Linked DNA regions of Homo sapiens: region 2 is linked to region 1. Evidence: fine-mapped expression QTL. Tissue or cell type: whole blood. Region 1 holds a variant in brackets; the other region holds the start of a gene. All regions are shown on one strand. Distances are from middle to middle.

Region 1 (2,686 bases):
GGCTCAACAGCGCTGAACTTTCCAGACAGCTGCATGGAGTTGTCATCCATCCTTCTCTGGAGAGTGTCTGATCCCTTCTCTAAACTTATGCCCTGCTCCTCTCCCCTATCTGTGCACAGAGGACTTGGTCCGATTCTACCTCCGGAACAATGCTCAGCCCACAGCCCTCATTCCCTCCGTGATGAACAGTAACTGTGGACTTTTGACCTTCCTCTTGAGCTTGGTCTGAGTCTTGGCATTTACAACCACGGCTCTAGGTAAGGACATGCTTTGGGGTGTCTTTCTGGCCCTTGCCTTTGCGTTTGCGCATAGGGCTCTAGTGGCCCAATTATGTTGTTGCAGTAAAGTTTCTCCTTGCTCTGGTCTGGAGCAGTTGAGGTCATTCATCCCCTGGATCTCTGTTGGCACAGGTGGCTTGGCCGAGTGCCACTTTAGGTAACTGTGACCTGTTTACTCAACTTCTTCCTGGAGTTTTGATATTCTTGTTGTCAGGGCCTTTGAGAAAGTTTATACGATGGGCTCAGTGAAGAAGCCGCAGCTGTTCTGAAATTAGGCTCCTTTCCCCGTGAATGTGCAGCTATGCGGGTGTGTGGATCAGGTGCACAGGGCTTTGAGGAATGTGGCGGAGACTCAGTGGCAAGAACAGTTGTCTGTGATTGCTGGGCCTTGTTTTGACCCAGTCCCTCACCCCACATAAGCCTCTCAGCGAGGAACATGGAAGGGTCAGGCCTCTCACGTTTCCTCCCCTGTGAGATTGGATCGCCACTGTGATGGCATTTCTCCCCATCTTCAGTTGCTGGGCAGACCCTGCGTGTGTGCGCACATGTCCATGAGCCCACAACCCTTGCATATTTGCAACAAAAGTCTCTGGGGAGAATGAATTTAAATGGACTCTTGACTATTTGTTCTGGAGCGGCACGTGTTTACTTAAGTCACCAGCCTCCTTCCTAAATGCAGTCACGAGCTCTCCCAAACTCCACAGACACCCAAACAACCAAATATTCAGAGAGCCCGTGCCCTTGCCCTGCTTCAGCCCCACAGCCCCGCCTGGGTTGCTGGTCTGACCCGGCTGGGCAGGGTGGCTGTGAGCTGCCGGTGTGGCCCCAGGCAC[C/G]TCAAAGGGTCCTCGGTGTTCAACAACAGGAAGTGCTGGCAGGCTTCCCTCGCTAGGGAACTGAAAGTGGTGACAACAGAGGATGTGTTCTTCAGGCTATCAGATAAAGCCCTCTGCACTGAGAACTGCTTCTGACGAGGAACAGAGACTTCACTGGTCTCTTCCCCATGCCTTGCCCTTGCCCTAACTAACTTCTGAATTTATATCACCTGTGAGTTCTGCTCTAATTCAGGGACTTGGGCGGAGAGGTTTCGGACAGTGGCCAAAAGCAAGAGACTGTCTGCATGACCCTTTAGAAACACCCGTGACCTGGTGCAGAGCTGAGCCAGCTTTGGCCACACTGTTTGGGATGCTGACTCAACGCAGCTCATTATATCTGATTGAATTTATCTTTCATTACTATGCAATCAAATTAAAGGGCAAGAAGGGATTTTTCTCTGTTTTCTGAAAGTGGTTGCAGCAAAACCCACTATGAAGCATTTATTTCTTGTATTGTTTAGACTGGGCAGAATCAGAGGGAGGTAGGTGTGTGACTTCATTTAGGAGAAGGTGAGCACTGATGGCAATATTTTCTTCAAATGCCACACATGAAGTGGGAGAGGTGACAGCCAAGCCTGCAGGGACTCTGTCTCTGAAAATGTGAGTGGAACAAAGCACCTCTGGGCTCTGGATCATTTTCTTGTGTGCTCCTGGGGTCTAGTTGGTTTAAACTCTTGAAGGCTGCAGTGTGTTTTTTGATATACCCCCATGTGAAGGGACATTTATTTAGCATAAACTATGGGCTGGGCACTGTTCTAAGGGCTTTGCATGTATTCACTTAGATTTACAAATTACTGAATATTGTTAAGAACAAAACCTAAGGAGCACAGGAGTGTGCACGGTGTTCTTTTGTTCCTATAAAAACAGCAATCATTCCATTGCAAGTGAGGGAAAAGTGGAAGGGTACCCAAGAAAATGGTAGAGTGATTGTCTTTGAGGAGATGAACTCAGGGACTGTGGTGTGGGGAGGGAGACTTTTCATTGAATACACACACTGCTCTGTTTGAATTATGTTTGACCATGTGGGATGCATCCTTGTTTCAGTATAAAAACACTGCATTTATTTTTAAAGGGAACAAAATGAAAATTTTATAGGCCAAGGCAATGTTGTGGGTCAGATCCTGGGGGCTGAATCCTGGAGTAGGGCAAGTCCAAGGCAATACTGTGTGTAGAATGGTGGGATGGGAGGGGGAACTCTGAGAACTATTTTTCTTCAGACAAAAAGACACAAAAGAGCTTGCTATCCTGGTGACGAAGAAATAGTTCTAATCTCAAACTGGAAGCTAGAAATTTAGGAAGGAGAACTCAAAATAGTAGTAAAGTCCACTTGATATGAACCAGTGTCAAGGTAAAACGAGAAATGTGAGCCCACCCCTGTAACTCACCCGCTATGTATGTGTTGTTCTAATTCCAAGATTTCCTCACTATGCAAGTCAGGCAGGCCTCACTTTCCCATCCTACCAGACTCAGACCCAGCTGATGAAAACCTACAATGTGCCTGTTACACATACAGTCAGAACACTGGCCCAGTCGTCT
Region 2 (2,686 bases), 1.0 Mb after region 1:
CTGCCTGTTTTTGTGTCGCCTCTGCAAGAGACATCTTGGAATAATAGAAACACCAGTGTCTGAATAGCCTAAAGTGGAGCTTACTTTTCTGTTAGGTGAGTCACCTTTAAAAATGATATTTTTTAAGGATAAGCGATGAATTTTAGGACGTTCTTCCCTCTACTTCCAACGTCCACAAGAATAAACCACCAAATTCAACGTTTTACAGAGGCCAAGTGCTTAGGTTTTGTGTGTTTGTTTTTAAGAGTTTTCTTGCAAGGAAACTGGGAGGGAACTATAAAAGGGCTTTAGGCAAACAGGGTGGGCGGGTGCAGGGCTTTAAGCTGCAGAAAGGAGAATCTGGAAAGAGCTTTTAGGAAGCAGATTCTCACATGTTTTAATATGAAAGAGTGGCACACGTGGTGCTGGCATTCCATCTTACCATCAGTGGAAGGTTTGAACCAACATCAAATTTTTCTGGAGCAACTTAGGTAATTATTACTTGAAGAATATGCATTTCAAAACTAACACCTTTAAGAGACAATGTAATTCACCTGCGCTTCCCCGCCCCCCCCGCCCGCGCCAACCCCACCCCCCGCCAACCCCGCCCCCGACTCCGCGAACGCCGAGGGGCCCGTGGTCTGCCTGAGTGACCTCCATTTGCTCTGTCATCTCAGGACTAGAAGCCATCAGCCAGCGTACGCCCTCAGAAAACTCTCTTCCCTTCTCGCGGGTCCGCCTGGCTCCCGGAGGCGGCGGTGCCAGGCTGCCGGAGTTAGCCAGCGGCAGGCTGCGGGCGCCCGTCCCTCCGGTTCACCCTTTCACCCCTCCTTCACCCCCGGAGCGCCAGGCGGGTGCCGCGGGTTTTCCGCCCACTCGGAAGGCAGTGCTGGCGAGACCAGGAATTGCAGGGCCTCTCCGCTTTGGCGAGCTCTGGAATCCGAGTCCTCCCCACCCCAGCCACTCTGCTGGGGCGCTAGGGGCTCGAAAAAGCCTGGGGTTGGCTGAAAGACACTCGGATTAGAGACGCAGCCAGCCTCCAGGGAGGTCTGAACTTGTCTTCGACCTCCCCGAACCCCTCCGCCTCTGCGCTGGGAGACGCCCAGCAGCCGGGCGGGCCCGGGACGTGTAGAGCCAGAGCACTCCGCAGCGGAGGCAGCGCGCGGCACGGCCGCCCGGGGCATCCCCGCGGCTGGGGGGCGGAAGGCGAGGGCGGTGGCAGGAAGGGTCCGCCAGGCCTGAGCTCGCTCCCCCACTGCCAGCCGCCGGCTCGGAGGCCCGAGCCGTGCGGACGGAAAGGGGCGGAGCCGCGGGCTCTGGTTGGTGTGGGCTCGGGGGCGGGGCGCGCGGGGCCGGGCCGGAGGCGGGGCTAGCGCCGGGCGCTGGAGCTGCGGGCGCACGGAGAGGAGTCGCCAGCAGCTGGAGCGGAGTTGGAGGAAGCAGCGGCAGCGGCGAGGGCGGCAGGCTAGCTGTCGGAGACGGCAAGCACGGATCGGGCACGGCCGGCGGGTCGCAGCCGGGCTGGAGGCCGGTCGGAACCGAGCGGGCAGGAGGCCACCGCTGCAGCGCGGGCCCCGCAGAGGAAGGAAGCCGGCGGGCGGGGTAGGTAGGCAGCAGCAGCCCCGGGTGTGTGTGCTCGGGCGGGGGAGGCGGTGCATGTGTGCACGGCTGCCGCGACTCTCTTCCTGTCACTGGCAGCGGCTTCTCCTTCTGCAGAGCCCCGCCGGGGGGAAGCGGGCTGGCCACCGGCCCTCCCCGCCTCCGGCATCTCCTGGCCGCCGGGCAGCACTACCCCCGCGCGCGGCCGGCGTCCTGTGAGATCCCCGCCATCCTGACTCCCGTTTCCCCCGTCCTCCTGCGAGCTGGTCCTGCACGCCGCCGGTCGCATTTGCCCCCGGAGTTGCCGACGAGCTCGGGCTTCCTCCCACCCTCCGTCACCGCACACTTCGGAGGGTCCCCGCTGTCGCCTTGCTGCAGTTTTCCGGGGCCCCTCACCGGAGGAGAGCGCCCTGGCCGCTGCCTTCGTGTTGCGGGAAGGAGCGCTCCCTTCCCCCGTGGCCCTCCAGCTGCAGCCAGGGTCGCTGCCCGGGCCCTTCCCGGGGCGGGCGAGGCGGCGGTGGTCCCCGGAGCTCGTCCCCTAACCCCCGCCTTCCGAAGTTTGCCGCCCTCCTCTTCCGGGGTGGGGGAAGTGCGCCTCGGGGCGGTTGGTCGCTGGGGCCCTAACTCAGCGTTTATTGCCAGCCAAGCTTGGGCAGGTTGTTGGAGGCATATTTAGTGGGGTCTTGGAACCGCCCGGAAATCCAGCTTTTGGAACGTGGGGCGAGGCGGGAGGGACCTGCCCAGCAATATGGAGCCGGCTGGGGAGAGCCAGGGAGCCTGCAACCCGGAGCTAAAATATCGTGGGCAATTCTCTGGAAACCACAGCTCTAACCTAAGCTCAGAAACTGCCCCTCAGATCACAAGACAAAGAGAACAGAAAACCTCTGGCCAGGCACTCCTGTACAGAAATACACTTTGATAACCAGAATTGGAGCCTGAAATGCAAGGATATATGCAGAATGGCTGTTACGTGTTGAATGCAGAATGTGTGTCAACTGGGTTTGGGGGAATTCTTCTGTTTCCCGGGGCGCTATTAATATCGGAAAGGTCTCACTTCCACCGTTAATCCCTTGAGCTGCAGCGCTGTTGGTGTCCGAGTGTGAGTCTG

Evidence for each region. PIP is the estimated chance that this variant, and not a neighbour inherited with it, causes the effect.
Region 2: PIK3R1 starts here. The variant in region 1 is fine-mapped to the expression of PIK3R1 in whole blood (TOPMed, PIP 0.95).

Annotation. Positions count from the first base shown.
Region 1 is chr5:67,214,848-67,217,533 of GRCh38, forward strand. No RefSeq gene overlaps it. Among named protein-coding and RNA genes, the nearest start is that of CD180, 19 kb to the left of the region's middle. RefSeq lists an enhancer at 1,053-1,292. The variant C/G (reference allele first, on the strand shown) is at 1,112.
Region 2 is chr5:68,214,369-68,217,054 of GRCh38, forward strand. PIK3R1 (phosphoinositide-3-kinase regulatory subunit 1) reads left to right here and starts at 1,388. Exons shown (of 16, transcript NM_181523.3): 1 at 1,388-1,581. RefSeq lists silencers at 565-784, 1,005-2,104.